Linked DNA regions of Homo sapiens: regions 2 and 3 are each linked to region 1. Evidence: fine-mapped expression QTL. A gene starts in region 1. Each other region holds a variant in brackets. All regions are shown on one strand. Distances are from middle to middle.

Region 1 (8,191 bases):
GACAGGGCTTCACCAGGTTGGCCTGGCTGGTCTCGAACTCCTGACCTCAGTAGTCCACCCGCCTTGGCCTCCCAAAGTGCTAGAATTACAGGCATGAGGCACCGCACCCGTACGCAGCAATTTTTTATACAGAGTAAAAAAAAAAAAAAAACACTGAATCATACCTTACTGGTACAACTCTCGCACCTGCAGACTCCAAGTACTTTACATAGGACGCAGCAATATAGTATCTTCCATAGTTTTTCATGACTTTATTACGGCATTTTTGCATTAATATTCCTAATAACAAAAAAAAGTTTAGTTTCAAGCAAATTCCTTTTCTTCTTGCTCAGAAACTGAAATATATCACAGCAAAAATATCATATTTTATTATTTCAATCCACAGAATTAAATAGGAAGTCTCTCCTCCAAGTCCACCCATAGCCTATGGGAAAGCAGCAGGGGAGGCTGATCTTACTTTCAAGTAGATCTATCTCTCACCTCATTAGGGAGGCCAAATAAGCCCCCAAAGAAGGCTTACAATAGCACTTGCAGCCTTCACACAACTGTAGACCTAGAATCCATCTAAAGAATATAGATCCTTAAATTTACAAGGCTGTCACTCCTTTCCCACACATACTCACAGACACACTGATTCCCTGACAACGAAGCAAAGGAGTGAAAACATCTTCCATCCACACCTCTCCAACATTACCTTAGCCCAAGCTATCAATATCTACCCTCTCCCCACCACACTATCATAATAGACTCTTAGAAGGTCTTGTTATATCTTTTCTTAAGAAACCCCCCCAAGCTCCAAGCAGCTCCCCATGTAGAAGCAAATCGGATCATATCACCATTCCTATTCCTACAGTCATTCAATATATACTGTTGAATCATACCTCATGCCAGGCAACAAACTAGCTGCTGGGGACACATGACTATGAGTGAACCAAACAAAAGCCCCTGCCCTGTGTGCATTAATTCGAGGGTGTAGCAGGGAGGGGAAAGAGGACAAACAATAAACAAGACAAAAAGGCATAATATATAGAGTGATGGCTGGTCGTAAGCACTAAGGAGAGAAAGACGGTGGGGAAGGAGAGCCCATCTATGTAGGAAAGGACAGTCTCTTCAACACGGTGGCCAGGCAAGTCCTCCCTGAGAAGGTAAAACATGACATTTGAGCCAGGACTTCAGAGAGGTGACAGAGTAAACCACATTCATATATCTGGGAAAAGAGCAATCCAGGACAAAGGAATAGCAAGTGCAAAGGCCAGGAGTCAGATTTGTGCCTGTCACGTTGCAAGGAATCCATATTATTAGAGCCAGGTGAGTGAAAGCAGAAAGCAATAGGAAAGGACATCAGGTAGCGATAGATCAGCAAGCAGGTGTCACCACTTTGTTTAACTACCTCAGTGGGTCCCTAAACTTTAATAAACTCTGTAAGACCCGTATGCTCTGCCCCACCCATCTCTCTGGCCTCCTTTTACCAGTGAAACCCAGCCCCAGCAGAGTATAGCAACCAGTATACATCAAAACACGTCTGTCGGGTGAGTACCTGTGCCTACTCCTATTCAGCACTTCAGCATTTGGAACACTTTCAGTGTCTCTGTAGGCCACCTGATAGGAAGAGCTGTTGTCTGTATTACTCACTTTTGTATTCCCAGCTTCTTACAATTGGCATTCATCAGGTATTCAGATTAACATGTCAAACGCCAAAATTTGTTCAGTAAAACTTTTTCTCCTTACTGGTAGGTAAGATCATCTTCACTAAGGAATAACAAAGTTTGGCTAGGGAACGAAGAACTAGGAGTGTCATAGGAAATGGAGTGGTACAGGGTACATGGGGTGAGGTACCACAAAGGAGACATGGGGCATCATGGGAGCACAAGGGTACCAGAAAGAGAAGTACATCAGAGTGAGTTCCACCAACATCTCCCCTTCCCCTGGGCCCACGCATATTCACTTTTCCCATCCCTGGGAAAAGAGCTCAAGCTGTTCTCCCTGTCCCTCAAAATATGACCAAAATTCCACCAATAATTTAAGGCCATCTCACAACTTTTGTGGCTTGTCATCTTTCAATCCTTTGCACTTCCCAGAGCAAGATTGTGTACATAGTCGGTACTCAGTTAACGATGTTGTGCTGATCTCAGTGACCAAAAGCAAAGTCCCTTTTTTAAATATTTGACGCAGGGCTACCCCTGATTCTAGGAAAGGGGAAGAATCCCCTCTGCTTTTTTTTCTCTTCTCTGGACACACAATATGCAACCTGTTACATTAATTACAGCTTGAGTTAATTCGTGGAGAATCAAATCACCATGTTAAACAGCTATGAAATAAGTTCCAAATATTAGTAAGCAACCCATTTGAAAACTGGGCACTACCTATATGAAAAAACATTCATCTACTTTCTGTTTAGTTACAGAATACAGTGATAATATTCATAGAAAAAAATAGTATGAAAGGCATAATCCTACAGCCAAAATAAAACTAATCTTAATGTCCACACACAAATTTCTTTGGGCAAATTTTAACCCCAGGATGATTTCTCCTAGGTAGCTTTCCTTGGGCCTGTCTCAAATGTGTGTTTTGGTAACACAGACTGATTTTACTACCTCTTTAAAACACAAATATGTTGGAAACGAAAAATTGTGGGCTGCATTTTAACACCAAATAGAACTCACATTAGGATATCAGCCACTGTTGTCCTCTGCTACTGAACATGACAAAATCCAAGTTATACCTTAATTTCTTGATTTTCTATTACAATGCACTGGTATTTTAAATACGCCATCAATACATTTTGATGAATGCAATGCATGTACAGAATTTGTAGATGTAAATGAGTAAAACTTCCCAACTATGTGCGAAAAGGAAATGTTTTATTTTAGTAGAAATTCCTAGCTGTGTACAAAAAAAGAAAATCCGCAGGATTCTTCATGGTGCACCCTCCTCCCTCCCACCTTTAAGAGTCATATGAGTCTAAAGGAATGAACGAGGTACCTCAACCAGGTACATTTCAGTACGACCTAAATGGTGCCCAGCCCGGGTTCCTCCTTGCACCAAAAGCGAAGCACATCTGGGGGTTTTTCCCGGCGGGACGCGCCAGCTGGAGCGCGGCGGCGGGAGGCGCCCAGCGCCAACACCCAGCTCCTCCCCGTCTGCTGCGGCCCCGCACAGCCTCCTTACCGATGATGGGCTTCTTGGCGGTGTCGCCGTGGGGTCTAGACAGCTCGAGGCTCGCCGCCCCGCAGAGTAGCAGGCCCAGCACGCACAGCAGGCAGCCCGGACTGGCCATGGCGCTCGCCGCCTCCCGCCGCCTTTCAAAAGCTCTGCGGGCGGGCGGGGGCTGCGGCAGGGACACCTCGCGGCAGCGCACTCGCGTGAGACTCGGGTGGGCGGTGCTCCGCAGCGTGGGCCTATGGGAAATGCAGTCCCGGCGCGCGCTAGGCGGCCGTGGGGCGGCGGTGGGAGGCTCTGGGAGTGCAGCCGGCGCTGCGCGCCCGCCCCATTGCTCTGTCCCCGGTCCGCGACCGCGACCGCGACCCCGACCCCCACGGGCCGCCTAAGCGGAGACTCTGGAAACGCCTGGGGCGGGTACCGGGTGGTCTCCGCGTCCTTCCCTTTCAACTGTTACGTCGATGTGGACTTCAGTCACCCGTACAAAGCTGGGCTGGCCAACCCAGGTCCTCGAGAGGGGAGGTTGGGTGTCCCCGGCCGAGTTTGGTAACCAGGCAGCGGGGAGGCTGGCAGGGGATTCTAGAAGGCGCCTGAGAACTGCGCGCCAACCGCACCGCCCCCTTGAAGGTCGGGGCCCTATCTCCGGGAATGGTGACAACGTTCGCTGTACGGACAGCCTGTGCCCCTGAATGTGAATGTCCACACTTGCTATTTGGGGGGTCGCGGCATCTGTAGGAAGTGAAGACGGGACGGCGATAGGAACACACGCACAGGCGCATCACTAGGGTCAGAACTGGGCCAACTCCGGGCGTCTACTTTGAAGCGGGCACGCCCAGGCCACGCCTGCAAACGGCGTCAGCTTCCTCTGATCAACCGCGGTCAGCGCCATCCACCGACCACCACTAAGCCTATCCACCGGGGCAGAAAAGATGACTGGTTCCTATTCGTTAAAACTGTTGATTGTTCCTAAATACATGGATATATAGCTTGTACTCAGTGAAAGTTTCCATCTATAAGGGCCAACTGAAATTCAGCATAAAACAAGAATATTTGAAAACCTGCTACATCAATGCTCAGTATTAAGGGTGAAAACGTAAATTGGACAGTCTTTTTCACAAGAGGTTTAAATTCAGTAAGGAAAAAAGGCAGAAAGCGTGACTCGTAGAGACAACAGGAACAATTTTAGCATGTTGCAAGAAGAGTAAATGCAGTGAATAGTCTGGTTTAACAAGAAAATAACGCTTCTGTAGAAGGGTGTGGTGAGAGGTAAGCAACAAAGGATGTGATGAAAGACATGAAAGGGCCGAGCTGGTTTTGAGCATGATTAAATAGACAAGTAGCCTTGTAAATATGAACTTGTGGTGCCAGAATAATTGACTATCCACATAGGAAAAATTTTTTACCCGGCGTTACACACAAAAATAAACTCGAGGTGAAGTGCATATGTAAATACGAAAGCAAAATATTATACTTTGATAAGAAAATATATAAATATATCTTCCTAACTTAGGCTGTTGGAAGAGTTTCATAAAACATTAAAAATAAAAATGTTAATTAAAAATTGACTATATAAGAAAATTAAAGTTAAAGCACAAACTTGGAAAATATAGTTATAAAATATAAAGTATTTCTAAAATATGCGAAGAAATAATAAGAAAAATGACACAATAGAAAAATGGAAAAAGAATGTGAAAAGCAAACCAAACTTTCTGTAGTCATCAGAAAAATGCAAGATAATATGTCACATCCATTAGACTGTGTAGAAAAACAGCCTGTTTCCTGGCAAGAGTGACACCATCTTGAAGCAAAACTATCCTGGGGACTGATGTTTGACCCACAGCATACCGAGGTGTTCTGCAGCAAAGGTCTTTAAACAATGCTCATAACATATATAACCCCTCATAAAGATGCTTATCTAACGTCCCCAGTGATCACAATAGTCTAAGAGCTAACTAGTTGCACTTGTCTTTACCCTAGAGGCTTGCTAAATAAAGCATACTTTCTGGAGGGCAAGTGCAGGGGTCGCTTCTGTTTGTCTCTACTAAGTATTTCTTTCTGAGAAATTCGATTGGTCAGCCTCTTTGGTCTCCCAGCTTCCTCCATCTTTGGAAGCAGGTTTCTGTAAATTGACAAAAATGTAAGCCTTTGATAATAAGTCAAGGATGTAGTAAAATGACAGTTCTCTGCATTTCTTGTGGAATTGTAATTATTATAACTATTTTTGAGAAAAATTAAGCAATATCTGGTAAAGGTGAAGATCTAAATGTTCTGTAACCCAGTACATTCTGGATATAAGTGTGTACCTAGATTAATGCGTGCTCATGTGAACAAAAAAAATATGTGTAAGTATGCTCTTTGGAGCATCTTTTTGTAATAGTAAAATATTAAATGTAAATGACCAATGTCATAAAGTTTTTCCCATGTGTTTTCTTCTAGTAATTTTACAGTTTCAGGTCTCATATTTAACTGCTTAATTCACTTTAGTTGATTTTTGTTCATGGTGAGAGATAAGGGTCTAATTTCCAGATTTTCCAACACTGTTTATTGAAGAAGATGCCCTTTCCCCATTGTGTGTTCTTGGCACCTTTGTCAAAAATCAATTGACAGTATATGTATTGGTTTATTTTTGGGCCTTCTATCCTAGTGCATTGGTCAATGCCCGTAATTTTATGCCAGTACCATGCTAGTTTGATTAAATTACTATAATTATAATATGTCTTGAAATCAGAGTATGATGGCTTCAACTTTGATTTTTTTTCTCAAGATTGTTTTAGGTATGTGGGGTCTTTTGTGGTTTCATACAAATTTAAGGATTTTTTTACATTTATGTGAAAAAAGTGACACTGGAATTTTGTAGAGATTACAATGAATCTGTATATTGCCGTAGGTCAGTCATATAGACATGTTCCCAATTTTAATTCTTCCAATCCATGAACATGAGATATCTTTCCATTTGCTTGTATTTTCTTATTTACTTGTATTTTTATGTGTTTTATAGTTTTCAGTGTACAGGCCTTTTACCTGCTCATTAAATTTACACCTAAGTATTTAATTTTTTGTTACTATTTTAAAGGGGATGGTCTTGTTAATTTCATTTTAATTTGTTATTACTATATAAAAATGCTGCTGACTTTTATATGTTGATTTTGTATTCTGTAACTTTACTGTTAATTTATCAGTTCTAATAGTTTTTTGGTGGATTCATATATAAGATCATGTCATAGAAAATAGGGATATTTTCACTTCTTCATTTCCTATTAGGCTTCAAATTTTTCCTCTTGCCTAATTGCTTTAGCTGGGACTTACGGTACTATATTGAAAAGAAGTGGTGAGAGTAGGCATACTTGTCTTGTCACTGATCTTAGAGGAAAAGCTTTCAGTGTTTTACTGTTGAGAATGATATTAGCTAAGGGTTTGTCATATGTAGCCTTTATTGTGTTGAGGTACATTCCCTCTATACCTATACCCAATTTGTTAAGAGTTTTTTTTGTTGTTGTTTTTGTTTTTTTTTTTTTGAGATGGAGTCTTGCTCAGTTTCCCAGGCTGGAGTGCAGTGGCGTGATCTCAGCTTACTGCAAGCTCCACCTCCCAGGTTCACGCCATTCTCCTGCCTCAGCCTCCAGAGTAGCTGGGACTACAGGCGCCCACCACTACACCAGGCTAATTTTTTTGTATTTTTAGTAGACAGGGTTTCACTGTGTTAGCCAGGATGGTCTCAATCTCCTGACCTCGCCATCTGCCCGTCTTGGCCTCCCAAAGTGCTGGGACTACAGGTGTGAGCCACCGCGCCTGGCCTTGTTAAGAGTTTTATTATAAAAGGATGTTGGGATTTTTCAAATGTTTTTTCTGCATGTATTGAAATCATTATATGATTTTTATCCTTGATTAATGTGGTATATCACATATTGATTTGTGTGTGTATATATGTCTATTATAGTAGATATAGGCAATGTATATTGTAATGTCTCCTCTTTCTTTTCTAATCTTGTTTGAGTAGGCTCTTGTTTTCCTAGTTAGTCTAGCTATGGGTTTGTCAACTTTATCTTTTCAAAAAACCAACTTAGTTTTGTTGATATTTTCTATTGTTTTTCTAGTCTCTATTTCATTTATTTCTGTGCTGATTTTTGTTATTTCCCCTCTTCTGCTATCATTGGGCTTAGTTTATACTTATTTTTCTAGTTTCTTGAGTGGTAATGTTAGATTATTTGTAACCTTTCTTTTTTTATATAGGTGTTCATTGCTATGAATTTCCCTCTTAGGATTGCTTTTGCTGTCTCCCATAAGTTTTGATACATTGTCTTACCATTTTCTTTTGTCTCATGGTAATTTTTTATTTTCTATTTGCTTTCTTCTTTAACCTATTGGTTGTTTAGGAGCATGTTGTTTCATTTCCACACATTTGTGTATTTTCCAAGATATCTCCTGTTACTGATTTCTGGTTTCATTCCATTGTGATCTCAAAAGATACTTGATATGATTTCAATTCTCTTAAATTTGTTAAGATTTGTTTTGTGCATTAACATATGGGCTATCCTGGAGAATGTTCTATGTGCACTTAAGAAGGATGTGTATTTTGTTGCTATTGGATACAGTGTTCTGTATATTTCTGTTTGGTCTATTTACTCTAAAGTGTAATGCAAGTCCATAGTTTCTTTATGGATTTTCTCTCTAGATGATCTGTCCATTACTGAAAATGGAATATGGAGAGCCCTACTGTAATATTATTAAATTATATTTTTTCCTTTAGATCATTTAGTAATTGCTTTATGTATTTAGGTGCTCTGATTTTAGGTGGGTGTATATTTACAATAGTTATGTCTTTGTGGTGATTTAACTTCTTTGTTATTATATAATAGCCTTCTTTTTCTCTTTTTATAGTATTTAACTTAAATCTATTTTGTCTGATATAAGTGTAGCTACCTCTGCTCTTTTCGTTTCTGTTTGCATGGAATATCTTTTCCATCCCTTCACTTTCAGTCTATGTGTGTCCTTATTACTAAAGTGAGTCTCTTGTGTGCAGCTTATGATTAGA
Region 2 (8,191 bases), 21 kb after region 1:
ACATGCATCTTTCTAGGCAAATGAACCACTCTCCTGTACTCATCTCTTTCCTCCAAAAACAGAGGGCTTTTTTGATGTAGGCATTTCTGCTTATAAATTTCCGTCTTGGTACTACTTTTGCTGTATCTCACAGATTTTGGTATGTTGTGTTTCTATTTCCATTGGTTTCAAGAAATTTTTAAATATCCTTCTTAATTTCTTCATTAACCCATAGGTCATTCGGGAGGATATTGTTTAATTTCCAGGTATTTGTACAGTTTCCAAAGGTTTTTTTGTTACTGATTTCTAGTTTTGTTCCATTGTGGGCTGAAAAGAGATTTAGTATGATTTAAAAAAAAATTGTTCAGACTTGTTTTGTCACGTAACATATGGTCTATCCTGGAAAATGTTCTACATGCTGATGAGAAGAATATACATTCTACAGCTGTTGAATGACATGTTCTGTATATGTCTATTAAGACCATTTGCTCTAAAGTGCAGCTTAAATCCAATGTTTCTATGTTGATTTTTTGTCTAGATGATCAGTCTGATGCTATGAGTAAAGTGTTGAAGTCCCCAGCTATTATTATATTGGGGTCTATCTCTCCCTTTAAATCTCAAATAAATAACCCAATGATGCACCTCAAGGAACCAGAAAAGCAACAACAAATAAAACTTAAAATTAGTAGAAAGAAAGAAATAATAAAAATCAGAGCAGAAATAAATGAAATAGAGAACAAAAAAGTACAAAAGATCAATAAAACAAGAAGTTGGTTTTTTGAAAAGATAAACAAAAGTGACAAAACATTAGCTAGACTAAGAACAAAAGAGAAAACCCAAATAAACAAACTCAGAAATGAAAAAGAAGACATTACAACTCATGCCATAAAAATATAGGGCTATTTACTGTTTCTCAGACATGCCTTACTCTTTCTGATCTCTAAGTCTTTGCTCACACAATTTATTTTCTTTAAGTATCCTTCTTCTCCTCAGTTTTCATTGCTATCTTAAAGGCTTTGCTTCAGATAATACCTCCTTTAAGAACACATCCTCAATACCCCAAGTGGAAATTATCTTTCCTTCTGTTAAACTCTCAAAACACTTTATTGGAATCACTTTAATGGCCCTTACAATATACTGCACTTTAGCTAGCTATTTGGAGTATATTTTTCCCTCTCCTAGGTAGCATATGTTTAATTTTCCTAGTCAGTAGTACTTAATTCACTCTACAGTGTTATCAAAAGTAGATATTTAACAGATTAATATGATTGTCTCAGAAAGAGGTCAGTTGAGTGCTAGGTATGGGTGTGGGAGGAGGATGGTGTATGTCCTTGCTAACCAGAAAAGTCGTAGGATTGTACCGCTGCCAATCCTAATTTTATTGCTCTCATTTCTAGTTCCTCCACAGCATCTAGGTATGGCAAAATTCAATATATAAGGCCAGTAAAGAGTGTTTCAGACAATACCATCTGACTAATTGGCTGGAGTTCTTGGTTATATGTCTAACATGTTTTATGATCTACAGTCTTAATTTAGGTGATTGGCAAAGATAAAGATATTTGTAATAGGACTTCAGTGCTATTTCTGTAAGAAAAATCTAGTTTGACAAATGAAATCATGATCTAGGCTAATAGCATATTGTTTCGAAATTAAATGGCTCTATCTTGTACTTCATGCTCAATTTTGCTGAGAACCAAAAACTGCTCTAAAAAATGAAGTCTATTAAAGAAAATAAAATTATCTGATTAAGTGGCAAACTATGGCATTTTTTGCTTAAAACTTTTAACTTCTTGACTATCCATGGCTTAGTAATTAGTTTGTGGTCCCCTTTATGTACAGCGAAAGACATTAGAGAAATACGGTGTTGAACTAAGCAGCTGGAATACCAGCCTGTCATTAAACTTATGAAGAAAAAACTGACACTGGAGTGATGGACAAATAGATGTGCTAAGATTTTTTTTTCTGTAAGGAAAAGCAGTTTTTGAAAAAGAATGCCTCATATTTACATTTTAAAATTAAAAAATAACTTGTACACTATGGTTTATGTGAAAGATGTTTATTTTCTTTCAAACAATATTAAAACAAATAAATTACGTGCAGTTGAGTAACACAATGAGCACATAATACAGTTAACCTTTTAAAAGGCACTTCTGGCATAATCACTAAAGTAATATAGACAATTAGACAATTATTTGCTTTGACACTTTATTAATTTGACCATTCATTTCAATTTTCTTTTAATGTTCTTCAGTGAATTGTTTCATTTATAAACACTTCAAAGTTCCATCATAAAATATGCCTAGATTAACTGACTTATCTTAATTCTATTTACTATGGAACCTATCACCAAAAAAATCTAATTTAAAGGACATTTTAAAATGTTATCCTTTATTTGGGTACTAAACTAATCACTCCTCCACAGAGTCATAAGAAAGTGTTTGAAATAAACAAAAATAAATGAAGTGGAACTGGTGATTGATATAAATCTTCTAGAAACAAAAGTTGGGTAAGCCAGAGGTTTTTTGTTATTGACACTGTTTATTCTTTTTAAGTGATTTTGTTCTTTTATTATTTTTAATTATACAATTTTAAATAGTATGCTTTTATTTTAAAATACTTTAAAGTGTTTTTTAGAAAACAGGCAGGGTCCAGTTTTTTTTTTTTTTTTTTTTTTTTTTTTTGAGACGGAGTCTCGCTCTGTCACCCAGGCTGGAGTGCAGTGGCGGGATCTCGGCTCACTGCAAGCTCCGCCTCCCGGGTTCACGCCATTCTCCTGCCTCAGCCTCCCAAGTAGCTGGGACTACAGGCGCCCGCCACTACGCCCGGCTAATTTTTTTGTATTTTTAGTAGAGACGGGGTTTCACCGTTTTAGCCGGGATGGTCTCGATCTCCTGACCTCGTGATCCGCCCGCCTCGGCCTCCCAAAGTGCTGGGATTACAGGCGTGAGCCACCGCGCCCGGCCCAGGGTCCAGTTTTTTAATAAAAATTATAATGTTGTTAGCTTCCCAATACTAAGTCAAAATCAAAACACGTTCTCTAAAGAACAACCACAATTACTTTCAATTTTATCATAGATATATGTATAATCCTAAGTATCAGCTCACCTGATTAAACTAATTTTCTTATAAAGAAAAACACCCTTCACATATCCTTACATAAAGATACTATTAATGTATATGATTAATGTTGAAACCTAACTAGCTGAACAAATGTTCAACAGATTTTGGACCCCATATTCTACATTTTCAAGTTTATAACAAAATTAAGAAATTATAAAATACTAAGTATAAAACTTATGTCATAAATTGAGGGCTATGTTGAATTTGAAAGCTGAGATGATATCTTTCTTAATAAATGAAATATTATAAACTGCAGTAGAAACAGTACATCTTTAC[C/T]GGTTATTTATTTATTTATTTTTATTTTTATTTTTTAATTTTTTTTGAGAACACATGGACACAGGAAGGGGAACATCACACACCGGGGCCTATTTATTTATTTTTGAAATAGAGACAGGGTCTCCCTGTATTGCCCAGGCTGGTCTAGAACTCCTGCGCTCAAGCAATCATCCATCCAGCCTCGGCCTCCCAAAGTGCTGGGATTACAGGTGTGAGCTGCCACACCCAGTCTTTACCAGATGTTTTTTTAAGTTAATATAAATTGCAGGATTTGATTAAAATATTCTGATACAATAGTCAAACTCATATTATTTTATGCATAATCTGAAAAATACCAGATGTAATTGACAGTAATTTTTTAAAATGTAAACATTTCCTTTCCTTTGTGTAGTTACGTTATTGTTAACTAAAAACAGTCCATGTATAAGACAAGTAAGTATGATTCCATCCCTTTCCGTGTAGTCATAAGAATGACCATAAGCAAAAGTTAAAATTACATTCTTGATTTGTTTAAAAATGCAAAGCAGATATTGAGAAGCCATCAACTGTGCCTGACGTATTTTCTAAATTATTTTTGTTAATCAATTACATCAACATGATTTCACAGAGACCTAAAGATGCCACATAGAGTAGTATGGCATATAGACTCCTCAGCTGAAAGTTTCTATCACGGCCAGGCGCGATGGCTCACGACTGTAATCCCAGGACTCTGGGAGGCCGAAGCAGGCAAATTACTTGAGTTCAGGAGTTTGAGACCAGCTTGGCCAACGTGGCAAAACCCCATCTCTATATAAAATACAAAACTTAGCCAGGAGTGGTGGTGTGCACATGTAATCCTAGCAGAGGTTGCAGTGAGCTGAGATCTCACTACTGCACTCTAGCCTGGGCGACAGAGCAAGACTCTGTCTGAAAAAAAAAAAAAAAGTTTCTATCGTGTTAATATACTAAAATAAAATTTCCCTGAGATGAAATGTCTTGCTGGTCCACAGGAATAACCATAAAACTCTATTCAGATTTTAATTATAATGAATTATAATTTAATCTGACATCCACTTAAAACAAGTGTTAATTTTTTTATCATTAGCTGACTTGTGCTAGTATTTTTAAGCGGAATATTTCTAAATTTTTTTCTAAACCAATTTAATCAGAGAACTTGTTTAAAATATAACTTTCTAGAAACATACAAAGATGCACATGAGCAGCTACTTTAGCAATAACTTTCATGTTCTCTTCAAGTACAAAATCGCCGATTTTTATGCTCTTAAAATGTACTGACATTTAATTACTTCAAAAGTAGAGAAAAAAGCATTTAAAAAGTAAAAAATCTTTCCAAACACCTGTGTTGCTCATGTCAGAAGATTTCTACATTTTTAAAGTTCAGGCAAGCATTAGTTTAAAAGATTTGCTCCTTTTCTTTCATTCATTTAACCAGGTTGGATATCACTCATGTATTTTTAGTTAGGAAGCCATTCACATGACATAACTTCTCATTGAATGCTCTCAGAAATGCTGCTGAGATAATCTTCAGACTTCATTATAAAATTTGTCCATTCCTGACAAATGTCCTCCATGGAGAATTCTTCACCACCATATTCCAGAGGAAGAATGTCTGGGAAATGCTGAAGCAAGCTTTGTTTGTAGTTGTTCCCATGCATGTGAATCTGAAATAGCCAAAACACTTTAGAAGGAAACCGCATTAGATGCATTTCCAGTGGAAAATCAACCTCATAAAACAAGGTATTCTAATAACTTCTAAAATGGAGTGTATAAATAGATACCACATCCTTTATTCCTCTGGTTATGAATCTAATAATTTTACTTATGTTTAGGTTGTATTACTGTGGATCTAATAACCTTACTGTTTCTTGGATTTGCATTCTTATAACTGCATAAAATTTATAAAAAGTTATTTTCCTCTTTCATAAGTAAATTTTTAAAGATTAAATAAAGTTATTTTATAAATTCTATTCCCTTATGTGCAAGTGATTCTTACCAAACTAATACCTTGGGACTATTCTATACACGATAAAAATGTACTAGCTGGTACTAATTCATATTAAGTAGAAGCATATATCTGAGCACACAATTAAATCTATGAGAAACAATTTATATGGTACAGTCGATGGATACTGTTAGTTAGTATAAAGTTAAGAGACAGCCGGGTGCAGTGGCTCATGCCTGTAATCCCAACACTTTGAGAGGCCAAGGCAGGTGGATTACTTGAGCTCAGGAGTTCAACACCAGCCTGGGCAACATGGCTGGTACAAAAAAAATACAAAAATTAGCTGGGCGTGGTGGTGCAGGACTGTAGTCCCAGATACTTGGTGGGCTGAGGCAGGAGGATTGCTTGAGCCCAGGAGGTGGAGGTTGCAGTGAGCCAAGATCGTGCCACTGCACAAAGTGAGGCCCTGTCTAAAAAAAAAAAAAGAATTAAAAGAATTAAAAAGTCAAATTTTAAAAAAGTATTAAAAAACAATTATGATAGTTGAGAACCTTAACTTTTCAAATATTTTAAACTATAAAATTGATCATAGAATGCCCTGAAGTTAAGAGAAAGCCGTAGAAACTTGAACCAAAAGCATACCTGCTAAAATAAATAAATAACCTTTTTTCACTTTCTAGGGCAAAATGTTCCTCTATGTATTCAACAATCATTTAATAAGCATCTATTATGTGCTGGGATATGAGGTTTGATGGATGAAATGAGTTTCCTATACTCACTTAGGAAACTCACAAAGCCAATCTTTAATTTTTTCTGAAATATGTAAAATATTATCAGGTAATTGAGAAGAAATTCTATCTCCTCAGGAAGGGGCAAAATAAGAAAATGTATGGGGCATTGCCAAAAAGTTAAAAAGGAAAAAAGTGGCTGGATCAGAGTTTTTTTCTCCCTATTTTGGCAAGTCTGTTTCCCGTCAACTAACTTTCACTGACATCCTTCCCCTAACTTCTCAACTTTTTACTTTTGCTTTTTTCTCCATATTCTCCTATTTCTTAGGTTCAGTTTATTCTTGTTTTTGTTTTTATCTAAAATATTACTCAAAATAGAAATAGTTATTTTTAGATCTCTAAGAATTAAACAGAGGGAAGCCAGATATTATCAAGTTACACTGAAGAGAGAAAAAAATGAACAAACAAAATTGATTTGTATAAAAATACTAGAATGAAAAGTAGCTGAAAGTGGCCATTTTTGCTAAAGCAGGCAATTTAAGGGTGGTTCTTGAAGACAAACAGAAGCATCCACTGCATAACCTCTAAAGAAGCTCTAGGGTCATAACTTTCTGACCAGGTATAAGATGTTATATTTTCTTAATATGAAAGAACATCGTTTCTAAAATTCCAAATGTGCTATTACAGTTTATATTATCACTGCTGACATTTCAGTGATTTTTTAGATTTAAACTGTTAAAACCTTTACAAATTGTTTTGTGTTCAAGGCATTAGATGATGCCAATGTTTGTCTAAATAGATGCTCTAAAAATTCTTCTTTACAGATTAGTTTAGAATGGTTGCCATTCTTGAGAACGCAGACTCTATTTTCAACCTTTCAAAAAGTCTAAGATATATGAGATGCTTTTTCTGAGATAAGGCTCCATAGGCTAGGTAAAGAAGAAAAAATCCAGTATCTTTGCTCTAACTAGCATGACATTAAGTCATATACCTCAGTTACCGTGGTTCTCAGTTACACTGAAACCGTTAAGTAGGCTTCACTGTTTAAGAAAAATGTTTATTTTTATTTGCATTAATAATAAATTCATATGGTTACAAATCAAAACAAGATAAAAGATACACAGTGAGAGATCTTGCTCCCAAACCTATTCTCATCTACTGTAGTTCACACCTCTTCTCTTGTTCCCTATAGATATCCACTTATATTATTTTTTGTATATCCTTTTAATGTAAATTTATGAAATATATTCTTATTTCTCCCCTTTGTATACAAAAGGTAGCATGCCATAAACACTATTCCACATTTTGTTTATTTCAGTTTACAAAACATCCTGCAATCTCGTTGTTTTCTGTTGTGTAGATGTTTATTTAACCAATGCCCTAATGGTGAACACTTCCTGGTTTTCAGTCTTCTGCTGCTGTGACTCCTCTAGCATATGTAATTTTGTTTAGGTATAGGTAATTCAAGACAGTGATTTTGATGTCTTTGCCACACTGCCCTCTATAGGAATATACCATTAAGCATTCCAACCAGCAGTGTATGAAAAGCCCAGTTACCCCACAGTCTTACAACCAATATACTTGATTTTTATAAATTAAAAGTAAATTTTAATTTACTTTTTTTTAGTTGGCTTGTTAGATAAATATTCAAAATATTGGGCTAATGATATAGATGGGCAGGTACGAGGAAAGATGATAAAGCAATCCTTAAATTAAAAAGGGTTGGAATGTTTGGTGTAGAGGAACACAGACTTGAATATATTTTACTCACCCGTTCCTTAATTTTTTCAGTCAGGAATGGTTTGATCATGGAAAAGACAGCATGGAAAATTACTGGTTCATTTATCAAATGGATGCCACGAACTTTCAATGGAAATGAATCCTTTTGAAAATAAAAAAATCTTAATAACAAAACATAAATATTACAATCTGATACCTAATGTCAAGTTTCTTCTTTGAACACTTGCTAAGCTTATGGAAATATCTAAAGTGTGTGATTTTATCTTCAAAATTATTTATTCCATCAGCACAAAAGCCTGGCTTACAGTTCACTGTCACTAGATTAAGTAAAGATCTCTAAAAAGGTTTCTCCTTATAGATTTGGCAAAGTATTTTACAAAATATCTGCACACTTTCACCAGAAAAT
Region 3 (8,191 bases), 41 kb before region 1:
AGAAAAGAATGGAGTCTGTGTGCTGGAGTATTTCCAAGATAGGGTAAAGGGCAAAGCCACATGCAGAAGTAGGTGCAGTATGCCACCATGTTCGTGAAAAGTGTGAAAGGGATTGTATGATGATTTGTCTAAGTGTAGAATGTCTCAGGAATGATGTAAAAGAAATCAGTTGCACTGGTCATCTCTGGGAAAAAGGATTGAGTGGCTAGGCACCACAGATCAAGGAAGGAGACATTTTAGGCTTTCCTCATAAAACCTGTTTGGACACTTCAAGTTCATTCATTCATTCATTCATTCATTAAATGTTATGGTCTTTAACCAGCAGTGTCAAAGGCTACTGAGAGCAGAGTTTCAGCTCCTCATTTTAACTGGAACATTCCAGAGAAGGAGCATCTCCTTGAAGGGAATTTGACTAAGGCATTAACCGAGAGAAGAGAAATGTAACCTACATTTCCTCCATCTCCATCTGGAGAGTCCTTTCAGGTGTCATCTTAGGAAAATCTAGGTTTTCCCTTTACAAGGAAGGTGGCATTTTATTTCATGGAAAATCAGACTCTGCTTTCTTATAGTTTTTTCAGCTTGGCTCAAGCTCAGGAAAGTAAATAGCAAAAATAGGTGAACCATAAAATTAAGCCTACATCATTGGGGTGTTAACTAAGGCCATTAAATTTGTCATTTGGGATCTAAATATTGGAGTAGGACTTTGATGATACTCTGAAATTGTACCTAAAGTAGACTAATCCAGAATAATAATAGAGTAAACAGCATGATTGAAAAATTTGAAAAACTACTTAAGCTTTCCAATTGGTATTTACATTTGCACATTCCCATCCTTAATGACATAAAATTAAATAGCTCTACAGATGCTTAATGCATCAGGGCTCAGTGAATCTGGAGGAAAAGCAGATGGCTTATGTATATCTGAGAGCATTTTAATATTAAGCAAATAAACCCCAATTAGATGGGCGTGGCAGAAGCATATCCTGTTGCATGCTTAATGGTGAGAAGTGGATATTTCAAATGTCTGTCCTCTGTACTTTACAAGAGTTTATTCAAAATGGCTGCATGGTAAGGGCTGGGGAATTAAACAAGGCTAAGAAGCAAGAGAGTAGATGAATGAGAATCCACACAGTGGTATAGATGAATGCTACAGTAGAAGCTGCTCAGCTGGTGCCTGAGAGGGAAGGGAGGACCTTTGTTCACACTGCTCTGTGTCTGTTGTGCTGACCTGGGACTAGGGTTGTTGCCGAACTAAAAACAAAGAAAAGCTAAACTGATCTATATCATAAATGTCATAGAGATATGTGGTAGAAGGAAGATGGAGGAAATGGTAAACACAAGGGGGAAGAAGGAAAGGTAGGTTGGGAGTTTAGAGAGGTAGGAAGGAAAAAAGGCTAGATGACATAAGAAACTTTAAGAAGAGTGGACAATCAATTCAGAATTTATATGTAAATCAAAACATCAAGTTGTTCACCATAGATATATAAAATTTGTATTCAACTATACTTCCATAAAGCCAAAAATATTTAAAATATTAGAAACATTATAATAGTTTTCAAAAGAGAGGTACCCAAACAGCAGCATCAGCATCACCTGGGAGCTTGTTAGAAATGCAAATTCTCAAGCCTCACCTCAGACTGAATCAGAAACTCTTGGGTGGGCCCAAAAGTCTGTGAACAAGCTCTGCAGGTGATTCTTATGCACTCTCAAGACTGAGAACCACTGGTCCACACCTTCTATTTAACATGATAACTAGGTTGACCTATGTTGTAAATATTCCCATTGAACATAAAAGTGATGTAAAATTGCTAGAAGCTGTCTGTATTGGTCTTTTTTCACACTGCTAAAAAGATACTACCTGAAACTGGGTAATTTATAAAGGAAAGTGGTTGAATTAACTCATAGTTCTGCATGACTGGGGAGGCCTCAGAAAACTTACAATCATGACAGAAGGCGAAAGGGAATGAAGGCACGGCTTACATGGTGGCAGGAGAGAGACAGAGTGCGCAGGGGAAAGCTGCCCCTTTTAAAACCATCAGATCACATGAGAGCTCCCTCACTATCATGAGAACAGCATGGCGAAACCACCTCCATTATCCAATCACCTCCCATCGGGTCCCTCCCTCGACACTTGGGGATTACAATTCAAGAAGAGATTTAGGTGGGGACACAGCCAAACCATATCATTCTGCCCTGGCCCCTCCAAAATCTCCTGTCCTTTTCACATTTCACAACCAATCATGCCTTCCCAACAGTCCCCCAAAGTCTTAACTCATTCCAGCATTATCACAAAAGTCCAAGTCCAAAGTCTCATCTGAGACAAGGTATGTCCCTTCCACCTATGAGCCTGTAAAATCAGAAGCAAGTTAGTTATTTCCAAGATACAATGGGGGGTACAAGTATTGGGTAAATGTTCCTATTCCAAAATGGGAGAAATTGGCCAAAACAAAGAGGCCACAGACACCATGCAAGTCCAAAACCTGATGGGGCAGTCATTAAATCTTAAAGGTCCGTAATGATCTCCTTTGACTCCATGTCTCACACCCACGGTACGCTGATGCAAAGGGTGGGCTCCCATGGCCTTGGGCAGCTCCTCCTCTGTAGCTCTGCAGGGTATGGCCTCTGCGGCTGCTTTCACAGGCTGGTGTGGAGTGCCTGCAGCTTTTCCAGGCACACGGTGCAAGCTGTCGGTGGATCTACCATTCTAGCGTCTGGAGGATGGTGGCCCTCTTCTCACAGTTCCACTAGGTAGTGCCCCAGTGAGGACTCTGTGTGGGGGCTCCAGCGCCACACTTCCTTTCCACACTGCCTTAGCAGAGGTTCTCCCTGAGGCTGTCTTATGAAGACCAGCGTGGGAGGCAATAGAACTGTTTACTGAAAGAAATATTAAGAAAAAAATTCCTTCCCCCACCCCACCCAGCTTTGGAAAAAAGTTGCTTCTGGCACATTTCTAGAAATTAAGCTCCAAATAAAATTTGTAAATTGTAGATGGAAAGTGATAATAAAGACAGGCAGGTGATAATGGGAGTGTATTTGGATTAACTTCTGAAAAAACAAAAAACTAGAAATTTGAGAGGAGATTTTAAAACCATGGCAGTGAGTAAGAATGAAGAGGTGAACAGAAAAAAAAAATGTTGGGTTTGTTTTAATTAAAAAACTAAAAGGTCAATAATACACAAGGCACTTAAATAAAAGTGATAAAGAAAAACAAATTAAGAGGATTTGGAACTCATGATTCACTTGAGGGTCACCTTGGTAGTAGTGAGATGTAATGGAGTGAGAAGAGCCTGGGTTTTCAGAGTCAGTGTTCAGATCCACCAGCTGTAAATTATATCATTCTGGATAATTCACTTAACATTAGGGATTGACATGCTTTCATTTGTTCTTACTTTGCCCTATAGTGAGAGAAGTAAAGTGTTTAATTAGGGCTATTATTAGTTTTCAATTTACCAAATAAATGAGCTCTTTTCTTTA[A/T]AAAAAAAAAAAAAAGAGGAGGAGGAGGAACAATGTATGGTGAGTGTGTTATGAAATCTGAGCGTATTTTTGACAATGCAATAGCCCCCTCCTCCAGAACCTCATAAAAATAAAAACTTCAACTAAAGACTTGTATTACCCCTTAGGGCTTTTTGGAGTCAGATTTATGGGTTTTTCTGTGTATGGTACTGGGTTGACATGAGGTTTGAGTTGGAATCAAGAAAGCCTCATGTTATTTGGGTTGAATTATTAAAATTGAGACTATGAGCCCAGTACATTTTTTCCAATATATTTCATGTTTAGGGCCATTCACATCAGCACTCATTTGCTGTTTGTGCTCAGAGACTTTACATCCCCTTGTGTCTCCAAGTTCTTGTCATCTATTTTATGAAAGAGGCCATATGGACACTGTCTTCTATAATGGTGTCAAATATTAGTCAGAGGGTTAAGTTGTAAAATGAGTGCATAAAGCAAAAGCTAAGTGTAGTCATTTTTCTTTCTCTCTCTCTCTCTCTCTTTTTTTTTCCCCCACAGGGAGGGATGGAGTCTCACTGTGTCGCCCAGGCTGGAGTGCAGTGGCCCAATCTCGGCTTACTGAAACCTCCACCCCCTGGGTTCAAGTGATTCTCGTGCCTCAGCCTCCCAAGTAGCTGGGATTACAGGCATTCACCACCACACCAGCTAATTTTTGTATTTTTAGTAGAGACGGGGTTTCACCATGTTGGACAGGCTGGTCTTGAACTCCTGACCTCAAGTGATCCACCTGCCTCGGCCTCCCAAATTGCTGGGATTACAGGTGTGAGTCACCGCTCCTGGCTGCTTTTCATTTTTCTATCACTTGCACTATACAACTGCTGATCCCTCACCAGTCCTGTTGCTGGTAGAGGTTTGGCTGATATGCATGAATTCGTGATTTGGGAAGATTTTCTGTCATCCAGTTTTCTTGAGGATGATTGTCATGCATATTTTTTCCTTTCACTATGGTGGTTGGTCCATTTGTCTTTCAGTGATAACTTGAAAGATGTTTTAAAAACTACCACTGCATCACAATCCCACCACCTCAAACTGGATGAAATTTCCTGCTTGATAAACCAACTAAGACTAAAAACTAGCAGTTAGTGATATCAGAAGAGAATAAAAAGTGTGTCTTCCATTCAAACAGTGTAAGGTGATATCTCATTGTGATTTTAATTTGCATTTCCCTAATAATTAGTGATTTTGAGCAGTTTTTCATGAACCTGTTGGCCTTTTTAAATTTTTCTTTTGAGAAATGTCTGTGCAGGCCCTTTGCTCATTTTTTAATTGGGTTATTGCTTTTCTTGTTGACTTGTTTGGGTTCCTTATATATTTTGAATAGTAATCCCTTATCAGATGTATGGTGTGTTAGTCTGTTTTGTATTGTTATAAAGGAATACCCACGGCTGGGTAATTTATGAAGAAAAGGTAGTCAGTTTTTTGGCTCATGCTTCTGCAGGGTGTACAAGCAACATGGTGCCGGCACCTGCTCAGCTTTTGGAAAGGACTCAGGAAGCTTTTACTCATGATGGAAGGCAAAGCGGGAGGAGGCACATCACATAGCAAGAGTGGAAGCAAGAGAGACGTCATGCTCTTTTAAGCAATCAGCTCTCAGGTGAACTAATAGAGTGAGAACTCACTCATTTCTGTGGGGAGGGCATCAAGCTATTTATAATGGATCCATCCTCATGACACAAACACTGCTATCTCCCACCTCTAACACTGGAGATGACACTTGAACATGAGATTTGGAGGGGACAAATATCAAAACTATATCATATGGTTTGCAGATATTTTCTTCCATCCTTGAGTTATCTTTTCATTTTGTTAATTGTTTCCTTTGCTGTGCTGAAGCTTTGTTTAATGAAATCCCATTTGTCTATTTTTTGCTTTTGTTGCCTGTGCTTTTGGGAACCTATCTAAAAATTTATTGCCGGGAGCATTGTTGTGAAGCTTCCCCCTATATATTCTTTTAGTAGTTTTACAGTTTCAGCTCTGCTGTTTAAGTCTTCAATCAATTTTGAGATTATTTTTTAATATGATGTGAGATGGAGATCCAATTTTACTCTTCTGAATGTGGATATCTGATTTTCCCAGCACCATTTATTGAAGAGACTGCCCTTTCCCCATTGTATGTCTTTGGCACCTTTGTCAAAAATCAACTGACTATAAATGTGTGAGTTTATTTGTGGTGTTAGTCAGAATGTAGAGAAAAGGGACCCCTTATGTATTGCTGGTAGGACCACACATTAGTACAGCCATAATGGAAAATAGTGTGGAGGTGCCTCAAAAGACTAAAAATAGAACCACCACATAATCCAGCAATTCTGCTTCTTGATATATAGCCAAAAGAATTGAAATACATATGTGGAAAAGATAGCTGCACTCTCATGTTTACTGCAGCATTATTCACGATAACATGATACGGACTCAACCTAAATGTTCATCAATGAATGAATGGATACAGAAAATGTGGTATATATACACAATGGAATACTATTCAGCCTCTAAAACGAAGGAAATTCTGTCGTTTATGACAACATGAATGAAGCTGATGGACATGATGTTAAACGAAGTAAGCGAGGCACACAAAGACAAATACTGCATGGTCTCACTTATACGTTGAATCCGAAAGAAACCAAATTCATAAAAGTAGAGAATAGAATGGTGGTTACCAGGGGTGGGGAGGGAAAGTGAGAAAGGAAATGGGGAGTTACTAGTCAAAAGAAGCAAAATTTCAGTTAGGCAGGAGAAATAAGTTTTTCGTTGTTGTTGTTTCTTGGTTTTTGGTTTGTTTGTGTGTTTATTTATTTATTTTGAGATAGAGTCTCGCTTCCTCATCCAGGCTGGAGGGCAGTGGCGTGATCTCGACTCACTGCAATCTCTGCCTCCCAGATTCAAGCAATTCTCCCACCTCAGTCTCCCAAGTAGCTGGGACTACAGGTATGGGCCATCATACCTGGCTAATTTTTCTATTTTTAGTAGAAACGGGGTTTCGCCATGTTGCCCAGACTGGTTTTGAACTCCTGGATTCAAGATATCCGCCTGCCTCGGCCACCCAAAGTGCTAGCATTACAGGGGTGAGGAATAAGTTTTTGAGATCTATGGCACAGCAGGGTGACTATAGCCAATAATAGTGTGTGATATGTTTCAAAATTGCTAAGAGAGTAAATTTCAGACATCTCACTTAAAAAATGATAAGTAAATGAGGTAATGGATGTTACTTAACTGAATTTAATCATTCCACATTGTATACATACATCAAAAGATCACATCGTACTCCATAAATGTATACAATTATAATTTTACAATTAAAAATAATATTAATAATAAAAATATTTTAAGGAGCATGTCTTCCTAGTGCCAAAGTGTTTACAGAAGCAAAGAGGGACAACCACACCAAATGATGGATCAAGTTACACGGGGACTTGGGACATTGGATTCAGCCACCTGGAGGTCATTGGTAACCTTGACAAGAGTAATTTCTATAGAGCACAGGGGTGAAAACACCAAAGTCCTGTGGAATAGATTTGAGAGAGGATAGGAGGGGAGAAACGAGAGTCATCAAGTATAGATGACTCTTTCGAGAAGGTTTATTGTACAGGTATACAGCAAATTAAGGAGATAATGAGAGAATGTGCAGAGTCAACAGAGGACTTTTAAAGGTAGGAGGTACTATAGTATGTAAGTGTGATTACCGGAATGAGTCTGGAGAGACGTAAATATTGATGATGTAGGAGGAGGGGGCCATTTGCTTGTGTGATGCCCCTGGATAGTAGAAAAGGGAAAGGATCTGGTGCACAGTAGAGGAGGTGGTCTCAGATGACAATAAGTGATTGGCCAGAGCTTCAGGTAGGGAAGGGAGAGAATATGTGTACAGATGACAGTGGGGGAGCACTGAACAGTGGGGCTTGTTGGGGGTTCTCCTCTAATCCTTTTCAATATTTCTGAGCTAACAGAAGGAAATTCATTATCTTACAGTGAGGAGAGAGGAAAGGTGTCGGAGATTTGACAGGAAGGGTGAGAAGCAGTTACCAAGGAGAATGAAGAAGAAAACAGACTAGGAAAGTGTATTCAGGTGGTGCAGTAGCACTGAAGGCCTGCTTATGGTAGTGCCAAAACCAGCTCAGTCCTCTTCAAATGAGCACCAAATGGAAGAATTGGTTTGCATTTAGGGGCCATTTATACACAAAATACAGCATTTTATTTTTTATCTTTATAGCTTTTTCAATAGTTTTTTGCTGATTGTGCACAGTGGAGTTTGAGAAAATTGAGAAATTAAATGCACATCTGGTGGTATCCACTGACCTTCCCTTTTTACTGATATTTATTCACCTAAGGATTATGGTTCCAGACTCACATTCAGTGTGGCTCTCAATATTATCCTGCTGTCAGCAGCCTAAGTACGTAGATGAGTGGAAAGCATGTACATGAAGACTTAACCATGTGTACTTCTGGTAGGTGACACTTAAGTAGAACAGGCAAATATTAAAGAAAAAAAGACTTAAATTTCCTAGAAGCAGGTGACATTTCTTCCATTTGTTTCACAAAATTTCACAAGTGAGAAAAGTCATGAAAAACTGGTCTTTGATCTTTTTTACCTCTTGAAAATGATGCAACATTTCTTTCTACTTCACAAGGTGAATATTTTTTTGAATGTTTTAAATCTCAAAGTTCAAACAATGGCATCAAAGCGCCAGGC

Direction of the effects. Positions count from the first base shown, and alleles are read on the strand shown. Sizes are in standard deviations (SD) of each study's normalised expression. Not every link is listed here.
With allele T in place of C in region 2, the expression in monocytes of the gene that starts at base 3,315 in region 1 is lower (moderate effect, 0.52 SD a copy in Quach 2016).

Evidence for each region. PIP is the estimated chance that this variant, and not a neighbour inherited with it, causes the effect.
Region 2: its variant is fine-mapped to the expression of GGH in monocytes (Quach 2016, PIP 0.95).
Region 3: its variant is fine-mapped to the expression of GGH in whole blood (INTERVAL, PIP above 0.99).

What each region holds. Positions count from the first base shown.
Region 1 is chr8:63,035,492-63,043,682 of GRCh38, forward strand. It overlaps GGH (gamma-glutamyl hydrolase), which reads right to left and starts at 3,315. Exons shown (of 9, transcript NM_003878.3): 1 at 3,169-3,315; 2 at 165-279. The coding sequence starts at 3,277. RefSeq lists a silencer at 3,349-3,708.
Region 2 is chr8:63,056,390-63,064,580 of GRCh38, forward strand. It overlaps TTPA (alpha tocopherol transfer protein), which reads right to left. Exons shown (of 5, transcript NM_000370.3): 4 at 7,817-7,927; 5 at 3,099-5,036. The coding sequence ends at 4,863. Among named protein-coding and RNA genes, the nearest start is that of GGH, 22 kb to the left of the region's middle. The variant C/T (reference allele first, on the strand shown) is at 3,376.
Region 3 is chr8:62,994,283-63,002,473 of GRCh38, forward strand. It overlaps a transcript of NKAIN3 not described here. Among named protein-coding and RNA genes, the nearest start is that of GGH, 40 kb to the right of the region's middle. The variant A/T (reference allele first, on the strand shown) is at 3,475.